2 linked regions of the Homo sapiens genome follow. Changing the gene in region 2 together with the main gene of any one other region gives a genetic interaction. Each region holds a gene or a part of one and is shown on either strand. Other genes may lie near its edges.

The links. A genetic interaction does not mean that the proteins touch.
Region 1: changes in PHF1 (region 2) and PTP4A3 together harm fitness less than expected from each alone (positive genetic interaction), as found in Homo sapiens cells (one study listed by BioGRID).

The regions. Positions count from the first base shown.
Region 1 is NC_000008.11:141,416,009-141,423,028, forward strand, and holds part of PTP4A3 (protein tyrosine phosphatase type IVA 3), read left to right. Parts: intron 1-117; exon of another isoform or gene 118-1,349; intron 1,350-1,900; exon of another isoform or gene 1,901-2,023; intron 2,024-2,380; exon of another isoform or gene 2,381-5,379; 5' UTR 5,380-6,232; coding exon 6,233-6,337; intron 6,338-7,020. UniProt on the Homo sapiens protein: Protein tyrosine phosphatase which stimulates progression from G1 into S phase during mitosis. Enhances cell proliferation, cell motility and invasive activity, and promotes cancer metastasis.
Region 2 is NC_000006.12:33,406,063-33,414,013, reverse strand, and holds the start of PHF1 (PHD finger protein 1), read right to left. Parts: upstream 3,001-7,951; 5' UTR 2,799-3,000; intron 1,767-2,798; coding exon of another isoform or gene 1,751-1,766; coding exon 1,592-1,750; intron 1,507-1,591; coding exon 1,425-1,506; intron 1,317-1,424; coding exon 1,221-1,316; intron 819-1,220; coding exon 718-818; intron 606-717; coding exon 457-605; intron 279-456; coding exon 183-278; intron 1-182. Other genes in the region: kinesin-like protein KIFC1, read right to left, coding at 4,324-4,368, 7,139-7,214, 7,349-7,422, 7,528-7,818. UniProt on the Homo sapiens protein: Polycomb group (PcG) that specifically binds histone H3 trimethylated at 'Lys-36' (H3K36me3) and recruits the PRC2 complex. Involved in DNA damage response and is recruited at double-strand breaks (DSBs).

The DNA of each region.
Region 1 (7,020 bases), on a different chromosome or scaffold from region 2:
AAGGCCTGGGGCTGTGCCAGCTGCAGCAGGTGCCTCCCAGGCCCGGCCAGAGGGCCCCAGGCAAGGGGGTGGAGCCCGGGTGGGGGTGATGAGGATGCTGGGGTCCACTTTTGTAGCGCCAGAGGCGACGGGCTCTGTCTGGTTGTAGCATCACAGAGCTTGATGGGAACTTTCACTCTGAGACCCCTTTTATGGATAAGAAAACTGAGGCTGGGGGGCAGGAGCAGCTTACCCCAGAGGTCCTCTCTCCCAGAGGGCTAGGGTGGGGATAAGCAGGGTCTCGGGGGCAGCAAGACCCAGCTCCAAATGTGGTTTTTCTGCCTTCTGGCTGTGTGACTCAGAAGGGTTGCTCAGCTTCTCTGTGCTGTTATGGTTTGTCAGTGCAGTGTGGCAGGTGTGTGTCTTGCTTGTGGAATGCAGTGTCTAGCCTGGTATCCTTAGAAAGTGGCTGAGGTTGGAGATTGGTGGGGCAGAGTCCCTGAAGCTGACCCATTCTTGCCTTCAACCTTCAGGGAGACGCTGCTGGAAGTGGTGAGCTGAGAGCACTGGGCAGGAGTCAGAGCCTAGCGTCTCCCTGTGGAGCTGGGTGCACCCACGTGGGTGGGTGCCCTTGCCAGGGAGCTCACACCCTTGGGGGTCCATGAGCTGGCAGGCAGGGCTACCTGGCTTGGTGTGCCCTTGGGTGGAGGCTCCCATGGGGCCCTTCAGACTGGGCACAGCCCTCCTGTCCTCTGCTCCCCAGCCTGCTTGCCCACCTGGAGGTGGGAGGAGGCGAGGGTTGCCGGCACAGCTGGGCCAGGCTGATGGTGATGTTTTCTGGAAGTGTGGGTGGGGAGAGCCTGGCAGGGGGAGGGGGGGTCGTGCTCTCAGCTGGGCCCCTTGATGACCTCAGATTGCAGGGACCAGGTTGTTTGAGAGCTGCAAGCAGGGCCACACCTCCAGGGACCCTGTGCTGGGGGTACCACCCTTGCCGCTCCACCCTGCTCTGAGGGCCCTGGGTGGCCAGGGCGGGCACAGAGTGGGTGGTGATGCCAGCTGCATCCCTGGGGTTCATAGTCTGGGGAGCACATGAGTTCCCGGCACAATGCTCCCAGGAGGCAGAGCCAGGAGTCGCAGGGAGGCGTTTGCTTGAGAGGGTCTGGGAGGGCTTCCTGGAAGAGGGGGCATCAGTGCCGAGCCTCAGAGTTTGTGGAGCCCGCCGCCTGGCTGAATCCTGCCTGCCGGTGTTACCTCAGGGTGTTCCTCGTTGCAGTGCCTCAGTTTCCTCACCAGTACGCTAGGAGAGACCAGCGTAGCCAGCCACAGCGGGGTCGTGAGGATTAAGTGAGGGGACAGCAGTGTCTGGCACGGTGGGTGCTGAGTAAATTCATGGAGGAGTGCCCGGGCGGTGGGGCTGGTGGGCTGGGCAGGGGGTCTGAACTGGAGGGACTCGGGCGCCCTCCTCCTCAGGGTGCAGGACAGCACCTGCACGGCGGGGCCGCATTTCCATTTCCAAAGCTGGGCGCGCTCTGTCCAGGCCTCCCCACCAGGAGCGCGGCCCGGCGGCTCCTGCCCTCCGGACCCCCAGCCCACAGGCCCGTGCAGCCCCATGAGGGGGCCAGGGGGAGCTCCGAGGTTCTAGGGAGGGCGCGCACCGGGAGAGGGCGCCGGGCCGGCCGGCGGGAGGAAGGAGGGGTCCCGGGCGGCAGCGCCCCCGGCCCTCGCCGCGCCCCGCACTTCCCTTTCCTGGCTGGGCTTCCTCTTCCCCGCGCCCGCCCTGCGCGGCCCCTTTGTTTCCCGGGCAGGGCGCGGCTATATTTAGGCGGCAGGTGTGGGAGCCCCCGGCAGCCGGGTCGCCCGCCGGTCACGCCCCCCACGTGACGCCCGGGCGCTATAAATAGCCGCAGGCGGCGGTGGCGGCAGCGCCTGGAGCCGGCTCCGCGGCGGAGGGGCGGCGCCCCGACCCAGGGCCAGCACCGTGGGCACCGCCAGGCCGGCGCGTATGGAGGCGGTGGGACGCCTGCGGCGCGGGTGAGCCTGGCAGGTGGGGACGCGGCGGACCCAGGCCTTCCGGGACCCCAGCCCCGCCGGGGAGGAGGTGGCGCCCTCCGGAGGGCTGGGCGGGAGCCCCGCTGGCACCCAGGGAGGGGGCCGCGCCCCTTACCACGACCCCACCCGCGACTGGTTCCCCGGGACTCCCCAGAGCGCCCGCCTCAGCCCTGACCGCGGCGCAGCTTACTTCTCCTGAGACCCGCTGAGCCCCGGGCCTCCAGCCTCCTCCCCCAAAATCACAGGGGGCGCCCTGTCTGAAGCGGGGGCTGGATTCAAACTTCTTAAGCTGCTGTGCCATCGGGAAGGAGGGCGGTAGCCTCCCTGAACCTCGATTTCCTCTTCTGTGCAGGGCGCTGCGTGTTGTTCCTGCCTCCTAGATTTGAGCCAGAGAGAACCCAGTTAACTGGACGCCTGGTGTGGCCCTGGTGGAGAATGTTCTCCCCTCTCCCTGGCTTGTTTCCTCATCTCGCAAACAGGGACAAGGATGGACTCTCCCTTAAAGGGTCTTGAGAAATAGCTGAGGGCTCTGGGCCTGCTGGCCCGAGGAGGCTGAGCCAGATCTTGGGAAGGGTTCTGCAGGGCTTGGTAGCAGGAGGGAAGGAGGTAGCAGGAGGGAAAGAGGGGCCACGGCTGCCAGTGGGTCCCCGTGCTGTGGGCCGCGGGCCTGGTGGGGGTGGTAGCGACTCAGGACACATGGAGGCAGGGGCAACCTGTCCCCATTTCGCAGATGGGAAGCCTGAGGCTTTGGCTTCAGGGAGTTCTCAGTGCCCATCCCTGGGGATCCTTAACCCTTGCTCTCAGGGCCCTACCTGGTGACCTCACTGGGGGCGTGTGGTTATGGAGGGGTTTTCTCCCTTGGGGGACAGCCACCAGGCAGGGCAGAGCCACATAGTGGTGCCAGGGCATCATTGCTTTGCTCTCACCTGGGGCAGGGGTAGGGGCCCTAGGCTGCAGAGACAAGTGGGATGTGTGGCAAGACCCTGGTCCAGCCTCTCCCTGGACCCCTAACCCCATTCTAGCCTGGGCTGTGACCCCTGAGCGTAGCCCAGGCTAACCCCCTGATTCCGGCAGATGTGTGGCATCCTTAGGCCTTCAGTGGGGGGTAGTGTGGGGTGGTTCGGAGCCTCCTCCCTCCCAGTAGCCTGCAGCCCTGAGGACCTGTGCAGGGCCACTAGGCAGCAGGTCCAGGCCACGTGCTGGTGCCTGTGGGGTCTTCCTGGGTCCCTGGCAGCTGTAGGTGTGAGGGGTTGGTCAGCCCCTCAGGGAGAGGCCCAATACTGTGGTTTCTCTGGTGCTTTTCTTCCTTTCTTTCTGTAAACATGAGCTCGGCTCCCGTGTGCACACACACAGGGACATCCTGCTGCCCCAAGAGGGACCCAGGTGTTTGTGTGCTGTTAGCACGTGGTGGCTTCCCTCACCCACACTCAGAGCCTGTGCTCCCTCCAGTCGGGCAAGGTGGGGACTGGCGGGACCAGGGACAGTATCCTTGTCTCCACCTTTACCTCCTTCTGGGGGTCCCACCCCACCACCGGTTTTTTTTTTTTTTTTTGAGACGGAGTTTTGCTCTTGTTGCCCAGGCTAGAGGGCAATGGAGCGATCTCGGCTCACTGCAACCTCTGCCTCCAGGGTTCAAGCGATTCTCCTGCCTCAGCCTCCCGAGTAGCTGGGATTACAGGCATGCACTTCCATGCCTGGCTCATTTTTTATTTTTTTATTTTTAGTAGAGATGGGGTTTCTCCATGTTGGTCAGGCTGGTCTTGAACTCCTGACCTCAGGTGATCCGCCCGCCTTGGCCTCCCAAAATGCTGGGATTACAGGAGTGAGCCACTGCGCCTGACACCCACCGCCCATTTTAACCTTCCCAGAACCATGCAGTGGACAGAGCCTGAGGTGTGGCGGCTGCTCTGAGCCCATGAGCACTGGCTGCCACCCAGGGTGTGGAGGGCAGGCAGGGAGGAGCCCACTGTCCCAGGTAGCCACCCTCTGAGTCCAGGGGCCCAGGCCTCAAGCCCTACCTGCACCTGGGCTGAAGCTCCAAGGGCCCAGCCTGCCTGGTGGGCAGCTGGGAAGGGGGTGCTGGGGCTGGGGCAGGGGCACAGGTGAGAGGGGGTGGGTTGGGGAATGGAGGGCTCTGCTGGGCGAGGGGCCCTGAAGTGCCTTTCCTTGGGTAGCAGGCAGTAGTGACAGGGCCGGGCTTGGGTTGAGTCTAGGGGGCTGGAGAGTCTGCTAACAGCTGGGTCACAGCCAGGGCCAGCAGTGCGGGGACCCCTCAGCAGCAGTGCCCAAATACAGCTTGGGTCACTTGTGTCACCCCTCATCGTGCTCATGGGGTAACAAAGAGGCCGGCACCTTGCTCAAGGCCTCCCAGCCCTTCCGTAGAGAGGGAAGGGGGCTGCGTGCTCCTGGAACCCCTTTGCCTGGGAGCTTTGGGGTCATGAGACCCAGAAAGGGAGAGAGGCAGGCGTGGAGGTGCCTTGGGTTGCTGTGGCCCCCCCTGCCGCCTCCCCTCTTCAGGGCCCTGTCATGGTGTGAACCCACTCCTGGCCACCTGTGCTGTCACCACCTTGGCATGTGTGCCTGATGGCTGGCCCATTGGCGTGTTCTGTCCCCGCCTCCCTGAGCTCCTGGAGGGGCAGAGCTGGCCTGTTTATCCCCGAGCCTGGCTGAGACCTGTGTGAGCAGTGGAGACACAGTGGCGGGGGGACACTGGTGGACAGGGGGCTGCTGACAGGCAGGAGACTTTCTGCAGAAAGCAAGAGGCGATTAGGGTGGCCCACGGCCGCGTGTGGGGCCAGGCCCCTCACCTCCCTGTGCTGGCAGCACTGACCGAGTGCCTGGGCCCCATTCCCTGAGGATGGGCCACCCAGAGACACCTGGGCTCAGATGTTCACAGTGGCTGAGAATCGGAAGAGGAGAGGGCAGCTGTCCTGGGGTGGAGTTTCCGCAGATCACAGCAGGTGGGCAGGGGCCAGGCTCAGGCTTCTTAGGAACTCGGCCTCTGTCCCCACAGAGGGATCTGTCATCTGTGTGCTGGGGTTCATCATGTCCTCGGGGGTGTGTGTGTCCCTGAAATCCCTGTCCCCTCTGTCCTCCGTCATGCCCTGCTGGCTGTGTGGTGGCTACCCTGTCGCCTCTGGGCCCTGGGTCAGTCCTGGCAGGAGCCGTGCTTCCTTGTGCTCCCATATAAGGAAATAGACCCAAAAGGGTCATTCTCTCAGCATGGTCAGGAGGAGGGCTCTGGGAGAGGTGTCGCCTGTGACTGTGGGCTCATGACAGGCATGAACCCCTTGTGGGAGGCGGGGCCCCCTGTGATCCCTTTCTATTCATTTCCTTCGTCTTTCCCCACAGATGCTGTGTGCTGTGGACCCACCTGGGGTTCATGGAGTGGGCCACGGGGCCCAGCCCTAAGCACTGCTGCGCCCAGGGTCGCCGCGCCTCCTGCTGAGGGGTCCCCGTGCCACTGGCTCTCACCATTGCCCTCGCCTGCCGATGGCCTCTGCTGCCCAGCCTGGGGCCAGCTCTACCGCCTGAGCCCCCTGCCCCACTCCAGGACTCACCGTACCCCGATGGGGTAACGTGACACAGGCCCCACACGTCAGAGGCCGCTGTCCCCACGGCCACTGCCCGTGACCCCTGGCCCAAGGCAGCTGGAGTTGGTTCAGTTCAAGTTCATTCTTCCTCTGGCCCTTGGGGGCTTGGGGCCCACCTCTGAGTGAAGGGGGCTGTCTGCCCATCCACCAATGTGGAGAGGGCGCCCCCGGTGTGGGGTCCAGCTCTGGACACTGCTTGGCGGCCGGGTTCACTTTGAGTTTTTAAGTTTTCTTTGCTGAGCTTTTTTGGTTGTTCTTTTTATTTTTTGCCTCTTTATGACTATCCAGCTCTGAGAGACGGGAGTTTGGAGTTGCCCGCTTTACTTTGGTTGGGTTGGGGGGGGCGGCGGGCTGTTTTGTTCCTTTTCTTTTTTAAGAGTTGGGTTTTCTTTTTTAATTATCCAAACAGTGGGCAGCTTCCTCCCCCACACCCAAGTATTTGCACAATATTTGTGCGGGGTATGGGGGTGGGTTTTTAAATCTCGTTTCTCTTGGACAAGCACAGGGATCTCGTTCTCCTCATTTTTTGGGGGTGTGTGGGGACTTCTCAGGTCGTGTCCCCAGCCTTCTCTGCAGTCCCTTCTGCCCTGCCGGGCCCGTCGGGAGGCGCCATGGCTCGGATGAACCGCCCGGCCCCGGTGGAGGTGAGCTACAAACACATGCGCTTCCTCATCACCCACAACCCCACCAACGCCACGCTCAGCACCTTCATTGAGGTGAGTGGAGACGGAGGTGTGGCAGGCAGGTGGCCCAGGTGTCTGGGAAGCCCGGCTGAGCTGCCCTCAGGCCTCGCAAGAGGGGTCCCCAGCCCCGGCTGGCCAGACAGGGCTCACAGCCTTGGAACAAAGCCCAGTCGCCTGTTACAGGATCCTGGAGGAGGGAGATGGGGGTGCCCCGGGGGTTGGGGTTGAGGGTGTTGGGGGATCAACGGGGTCCCCTGGGAGGCCTGCAGGGGGCTGGCGTGTGATAGGAGGGACTCCACGCTGTGTGGATAGAGGCAGGGGGTGAGGCAGGGGGATACATGGACCAGGCTGTGCGTGCTCAGCCGTGGCCTGGGCTGGGGCCCTCCCGAGCCCTTTGCTGTCCCAGATGTTGCTGGGCTCTGGATGAGGCCTCAGGTTAGACCAGGCTGGACTAGGGGCTTCAGGGCCCAGATCTCTGTGTGAGGAGGGACTGAGCAAGGGTCAGCGCTGACCACAGGAGGGAGGGACCACTGTGCCCTGGAGAGGCAGCAGAGATACCTGCCGCTGGCAACCCTGGCAGATGGGACGAGATGCGTTTACAGAAGCTTTCTTGGGAGTGGAGTCTGGAGCGACCTGCATGGCCTCCTGGAGGAGCCTGGCCTCTGCAGAACGCCCTGCTGTTTGCAGGCCTGGGGCCGTTTGCAGCGTCTGCAGTT
Region 2 (7,951 bases):
CACTTACACAGGAAAACTGTGCCATCCCCTGGAAGACTCACAAGCAAGGACGGGGCAAACAGGTGAGGTAACGCTGCAGAGGTTGGGAAGAGACTGGAGTGGAGAAGGGCGTGGGAGAACTGAGGGTGGAACACGAAGAAAGAGGGCATCCTTGGCTCCTAGAGAGTCTGCCTTGGTCTCACCTGTCCCCATAGAGGAGGGGCTTGCTCAGACACTGGGTGCAGGCCTCATGGAACCACTGCAGGCAGCTCCGGCACTGCAGCATTTTCAGGTTCCACCTGAGGGGGAACACAGGACTTCTGGCCTCCAGAAACCCCCTTCCCCATAACTGTCCCAAACCCTAAACTTACCTCCTATCCCCCTGAGTGCTACCCTCATCCTGTTCTTTTTCCTTCATTTCCTGGGATCCACCACCACATCATTCATTCCACAGTCTGCTCCCCTCTCATTACTCACTCCCCAGGGCCACCACAGTAACAGTAACTCTGCTGTCGGTTGCTCAGATGTCCAGCATCCCAGTCCAGCCCCTTCAGTCCATATGGCAGAGAAAGCTTCATACCCAGCATGGCCCGGGCATAGGGGCCCTTCTTCAGGGCACCTCCCCTCTGCAGAGACAGGACAGGTGGGTGGCTTCAGAGGGGTGGGGAGAGGAAAAGGCTTGGGAGAGGCTGTGGATGGGAGGCTCCCACAGGAAGGGTAACAGGGAAGTGCCTTTACCTTGGTGGCGATCGCAAAGACACACTGGCGGCATACCCAGGATGTGCCCTCTCCCTCTCCAGGGGCTGGAGCCCTGGGAACATGGCAGTCCTGGTGATAAGCTGCAGTGATAATAGTAGACCACTTATTGCATACCTGTGTGTGCTTGGTATTGGGACAGGAATAGTCTTTACCCATCTCATTTAATCCCTGACCATGGTCTTGATGAGGGGGTGCATTATCCTTATTTTACAAGTCAGGGAACTGAGGCTCCTAGAGGTTAAGGGACTTGTCCGAGGTCATATGGTTAGAAAAGGATGCATTTAAACCATCTTCTGCCTGCAAAGGTTATACCACCCCTTTCCATGGCTGCTTCTCCCTGGGCTGAAAGCGGATGAGGACTAAGATAAGGCTAAGCAGCCTGGCCAGAGCAGTGGCTTGGGGACTAAGGCCAGGACAGGTGATATAGAGACCATCCTGGAGGGAAGAGCAAGCTGGACCATTCAGGTGACCTGCCCTCTCACCATGGCGACACTTCTCACAGCTGACCAGCCGGTTCCCAGGGACCACAGTCTCAGAGCGACAGACACAACAGAGGAGTTCCTCTCCAGGGAGGGCAGCTGTGAGAGAACACAGTGTCACAGGGCCTGCCTTTAAGTCTCTTTCTGCCCCTCTAGGCCAGGTTTGTTTTCCATGGGATGTGCAATCTCAGGTCTCTAGAGTCTTACCAGGGCTAATGTCTTTCCATAGAACCAGAAACTGCGAATCATCCTCAAACTGGACCAGACACACCTCCCTAGCACTGTCCACCTGGAATGGGTGAGCAAACAGGATGAAATGGGAACCAGAATTAGATAAGGGAACTAGGAAGAAGGTCAGAGGTAGAAGGTCTTACCTTTTTGATGGTACCCAAGTATAGCAGCCCATCAGTCCATCTGGCCAGCACATCTTGACCCTCCCAAAGCCGAGGCCTGGGGCCAGAGGTGGGAGCAGGAGAAGCTGGGTCCCAAAGTGAGGAGGCACCAGAGCGGCTCAGCCGGGGGGGCTGCGCCATTGCATCCTGGGGGGGCCTAGCCAGAAAAGAAATGGGGAGGAGAAGGTTATGAATGCTGAGAAACCTTCCCCATTTTCTTTTTCTTTTTTTTTTTTTTTTCCTGAGATGGAGTTTTGCTCTGTCGCCCAGGCCAGAGTGCAGTGGCACAATCTTGGCTCACTGCAACCTCCACCTCCCGGGTTCAGGCAATTCTCCTGCCTCAGTCTCCCAAGTAGGTGGGATTACAGGCGCATGCCACCATGCCTGGCTAATTTTTGTATTTTTAGTAGAGATGAGGTGTTGGCCATGTTGGCCAAACTGGTCTCGAACTCCTGACCTCATGATCCACCCACCTCAGCTTCCCAAAGTGCTGGGATTACAGGCGTGAGCCACCGGGCCCGGCCAGCCTCCCCATTTTCTTTGCCTATTTTGCCATCAAGAATGAAGTATCTGTGCCCCCATCTCCAAATCCCTGAGACACCTTGATAGGAAACCACTGGGCACCCATCACCAGCTTTTTGAGTCCTCTTCCAACTCTAGTGACTGGCTCTCCTCTCGGTAACTAACAGCCCTCCCCCCGACCCCAAACCTAGTTGCTAGTTTCCCAGCTTCCAGAGCTCTCCTGGGATATTATATACTGGCCTTGAAATTTTAGGAGAAATTATGGTTGTAGAAGCAAAGGCTACTCAGTTTAGAGGTATCATAATTAGGGTGTCCTGTTGCCCAGAGACGTGTTTTGGGACCTTTTCTGGAGATGTTTTCCAGAGCAGAAACGGCTGTCTCCCCAGGCCTGCGCGTCTCATTAAGAACAATCATCCTGGTGCCAGGTTATGTCAGGTCACCCTCAAATTCGGGGCTCCCTGCCCCCGGGTTAGACAACTTCTCTGAGTGCCCCGGGAGGGGGGCGTGTCCCAGTCCCGGTCTCTACTCCCCAGGACGGCAAGTCCGAGAAGGGACTTGTGTCGGCCCAGCCCGGACCCGAGGCCAAGGCGGCGAGGCTCTCCCGCCCGCGCCCCGCGCCGACCCCCGGCTCCCTGCCCCCCACCAGCGCCTCCTGCCGCCTCCTTACCGGTGACAGCTGGGGCCGCCGGGAGCCGGGCAGGGGCAGACGTAGGAGACCTAGGCGAGTCCCCCGCGCGGAGAGGGCACGTCCGGGCGTGGGGGGGCGTGCAGGCGGAGGCCGGGGGGTCCCCAGGCCCAGCCCCTCCGTCCCGGCGGCTCTGGGGCGTATGACGCAGCAGCCAAAGCAGCGGCAGCGGCAGGAGGAGGAGGCGGCGGGGGGGAGGGAGGGAGGGGAGGGACGGACCGGTTGGGGGGGAGGGTGGTGGGAGGGGAGGACTGGGGGAAAGGAGGAGCCGGAGGGGGGGGCGGGCACCACCTCACCCCACCTCCCTCACCTCCAACAGGCCTGGAGGGCGCCGAAGAAGAGGCTGGCCCTCCGCGGCTTGGGGAGCGAAGAGTCGGACCCGGTGGGAGAGGGAATCCCCTCAGCCCCTTCCTCCGACCTGAGATTCGCCCTTGGGGCACGAGGGAATCCCCCCTCCCGGCAGCCCGCCTCCGGCCTGGTCCCCCGCCCCATGCCACATCCGTTAGCTGCCCCACCCCCCATGGTCACTCCAAGTCCCGCCCCCCGGCCCCAGTTCACAGCCCCGCCCTCCATTCACCCTTCTCGATGCCCCCACCACGCCCTCCTCCCTCGCGCGCCCCGCCCTCCCCGTGACGAGTCGCGCCCCACCCACCGCCCTTTTGCGCACGCGTGTCCCCTCCTGCGCGCGGCACCTGGGAGGACTGAGCCCCTCCTTCACCGGGCGGCGGCCGTCGGCGGTTGGCGCGAGGGAGTCGGCGGGCGTGCGCGCCGCTTCCCGTGGACGTCCCGCCCCGTGCTTCCAGGGCTGGCGCAGACGAAGGGCGCGAGGACCCAAGGCGGTGACGCCACCGAGAGCCAGCCAATGGGCAGCGAGCGGGCAGAGCCCCAGCCGTTCGAACGGAAAGGCAGGGAAAGGGCGGGACGGGAGGAAAGAGCCAACAGTTTGGGAGCGCGCGCTAGCCCCGCCTCTGGACTCTGGGGTCCGGTCCCCATTTGCCGACACCCACCAAAGGAACGTTCTTCCCTGGGGCTGGGGTGGCCGGCGGAAGGGTGAAAGTTACCTATAACTAGTGACCAAGGAGGGGGCGTGGATAGCTAGAGGGCACACCTCCCTGATGTGACGGACGGGGTAGGGGGTATTAGCAGAGGGGAAGATGATCCAGGCCAAGGTCCAGAACCGGTGATAGCAGAGGGGAGAAAAGACGAAGCCCTCAGCCCCCGCTCCCGCCTCCCACGTAAACGTTTGGCAGAGGGTACAGATCACAGCTCCCACTTTTACAGATATGAAAGTATCTGCCTTCTTGGGCAAATGCTAATAAAACCTTTATTTAAAAAAAAAACCAAACTATTCTTTATTTGATAGCCCTGGGACATGGTGCCCTCCACCCAATAAAGCACCCTCCAGCAACCCTCCCACCCCTCACCCGATACATAGACATAGGGACACACACACACACACACACACACACACACACACACACACACACACACAGATCTGGATCCGTCTTCACTTCCTGTTGGCCTGAGCAGTACCAATAACACACTGGTTCACCTGGGGGCAGGGGGTTAGACAGGATAAAAGTTTGCAGCGTAACCAATACAACATTTTTCCCAAGATCTCCCATCCTCCAATGCTAGGGCTGCCCTCAGAAATACCGAAATAAGGCCTCCAAAGGCTGGTTCAGGCTGGTGCCAGTTATGGTTTGTTCTCCTCTGCACACTAGGTTTGGAGGAGGTGAAAAGGCTTGAGAAGAGATGGAAGCCCCAGAAGAAAATACAGGAGCAGAGAAAGGAGGCTTTCATTTCCAGCAATACCCTGTACTAGAGACCTCCAACCTCTCCCACTGTAAAACACTTAAACCGAGATAAAATAGTAATAACACCCATTTAGGAACTAGGACTCCTTAGAAAATGGATCAGTTGAAGTCTGGGGAAGGAAATGTACAAGTTGAATCTGAAAAGACTACTAGAGTTCTGTCTAAAGGACACTGGCACCAATCTGAAGGAGGCTCTTTTTTTTGTTGTTGTTGTTGAGACGGAGTCTTGCTCTGTCGCCCAGGCTGGAGTGCAGTGGCGCGATCTCGGCTCACTGCAAGCTCCACCTCCCGGGTTCAAGCCATTCTGCCTCAGACTCCCAAAGTAGCTGAGACTACAGGCGCCCGCCACCACGCCCGGTGAATTTTTTGTATTTTTAGTAGAGACGGGGTTTCACCGTGTTAGGATGGTCTCGATCTCCTGACCTCGTGATCCACCCACCTCAGCCTCCCAAAGTGCTGGGGTTACAGGCATGAGCCACCGCGCCCGGCCAGGAGGTTCCTATTGGCTAAAGATGGGGCAATTTGAGCATCAGAAAGAAGAACGACTGTGGCCGGGCTGGGTGGCTCACGCCTATAATCCCAACACTTTTGGTGGCTACAATGAGCTATGATTGAGCCACTGAATTCCAGTCTGGGCAACAGAGCAAGTCCCTGTCTCAAAAAAAATAAAAATAAAAATAACCCTCAGATAAACATTCATTGGTCACCTTTGGAAGCTGCTAGGATATCAACTCAATACTGAAAATCAATAAATAATTCAGCATTTATCTTGTTTTTCCTGTATGAATTGAATTTCAGAGAAACCAAGTAGATGGCAAGGCAAATGTCTTCATAAAAGAATCGTGACTAACCAATGCAGAACAACTAAGATTAGAAAAATCCCCATTTAGAAACCCCTTAATGAAATAAAGATCCAGGTATGGTCACTGCTGGATAAAATCACTAGGTGAAAAAGTCAATAAGGAGCTTGTAAATGGATGGGTCAGGTTGACAACACCCAAATATGATAAATAAGTGAAAGTATGGGGGAAAGAGGAAGCAACCAGCCAAAATCCAGAATAGTATATTCTATAGGACAAATGACCTTCAACAAACGACATAATAGTGGCAGTGTGGGATAGGGTTGTGGAACTTGAGACATTTCAACCAAGTGGGTGGCCCTTGCCTGGATCCTGATTTGAACAAACCTATTATGTATAAAAGACACTTCTGAGACAGTTGGGTGAAATTTAACATAAACTGGGTATTAGAGGATATTAAAGTTCATGTTGTTGGATGTTACATTGGTATAACATTAATAAAAAGTTAGAAAAAACATCACCACCCTCTAAAATTGAACTTGCAAGATAGTGAGGGAAACCCTCATCAAAGTAGAATACCAGATCAGGGTGCAGGTGCTGGCTACTCCACAGCAACAATCAGTGCTGACTGGGAGGAGGCCCAAGCGCACAGCAGGACAGACCTGATCAGACCTCAAATAAAGCCAGAGCCCATCAAAGGGCTATACGCGCAGGAGGAGGGTGTACCAGAGAAAAAAATTACTGTGGAGGCAGACAGTAAGGAAACTTTCTGACTTGCTTAACACTAGTGGAAGGAGATTCTAGTGGAAGGAATTCTCATTAGTGAGAATTCATATAGCCACTGGCTGACCCTCATGAGGTTTGGAGTCTGAATTCACACTATTTGGAATAGTCTGAAAAACCTCTAAGTCTTTGATCCAGTAATCCCATTTCAAGGACTATTTCCCTAGTTAGATGTAACTGAAAAATACAAAATGATGTATGTACAAAGTTAGTCAACGTGGCCTTGTTTGTGACTAAAAAAGTGTGGAAACAATCCAAGTGTCCAGTAGAGGGAACTGGTGGATAAATTTTGGTGCAGCTACATAGTGGAGTCTAGGCAGACCTAAAAATAATGATCTCTGTATGCTGATAGGGAGGAATCTTAGGGATTTTTTGTGTGTTGGTTTTTTGAGACAAGGTCTTACTCTGTCACCCAGGCTGAAGTGCAGTGGTAGGATCACGGCTCACTGCAGCCTCCACCTCCCAGGTTCAGGTGATCCTCCCACCTCAGCCTCCTGAGTAGCTGGAACTACAGGTGTGAGCCATTACACCCAGCTAATTTTCCTATTTTTTGTAGAGACAGGGTCTCACTATGTTGCCCAGACTGATTTTAAACTCCTGGGCTCAAGCAATCCTCCTGCCTTGGCCTCCCGAAGTGTTCGGATTATAGGCATGAGCTACTACGCCCAACCAGTTTAGACCTTTTAGTCACCTTTTCTTTTTTTTTTAATCAGCTTTCTCAGGTTAAATTAATCACCCGTTTTTTAAAAAACTTAACTCAAAAGCTAATAATTAAAAATGGAACCAGGTGAGCAGTGCCTCAGATACCTGCAAAACCTTTCTGCACAAATGTGCTCCCTGCCCTAGAAGACAAAAGGGATTGGAATGGAGAAGCCTACAACCACCCACGGGTCCTGACAAGGCTGACGGGTGGTAATCGCACCTTGGAGGCAAAGCGTAGAGAGTTGAGGGACTCGGAGACGTTCTCTTCCAGTGGAGAAATGTTCACAAACATGAGCCTATGAAAAGACAATGTGCCCAACCCCAGCATTAGGGGCCAGCAGAGCCTGGACAGGTCTCCACTGTTCCCCTTTCTACCCCTCACCCCAACACAGTTCCTACCTGACCCCTTCCATCTGTCCCTTTCACTCACATCTTAGCACTACCACCCAGAGAGTTCTGCAGCAGGTAGGTCAGTTTGCTGTTCCGGTAAGGCACGTGGGACTCCTAGATGATTGAGGTGGGGACAGATGTTTAGGAATAGGCAGGGTTCTGCACAGCCAACCCCAACTGTCCCCCAGGTCCCGTATCTCACCCCACTCCCATTCCCACCTTGTTGCTCAGGGCCATGATAACCAGCCCCAGCGTGGACAGGCTGCTGTTAATGGCCTGTGTTTCCCGAAGGCGTTCCCGCTCCCCGGGGCCGAGGGCTAAGCCGGGGTCAAGTCGCTCACTCCCGGCCAGGTCCACAAGACTGAGGGGGGCCCCACACTGCAGGCCTCGGCTGGAGTGCTCCCCAGAAATCTGTAGCTGGAATACACTGTGGCTGCGTGATGACCGTTCATTCTGGGCTGTGCGGGCCACAGCCCGATTCTGGCGGGCCAGATGAAGCAGGGCGTCCACCTGGGGATGGGAGCAGAAGGGGCAAAAAGGCAGGCAGAAGTCAGTACATAGTAATATGTATGGAAATGAATAAGAGCCCACCCCCACCCTCTTGAAGCTTTCTAGCCTGTCAAGAAACAAAATAAGATGCACA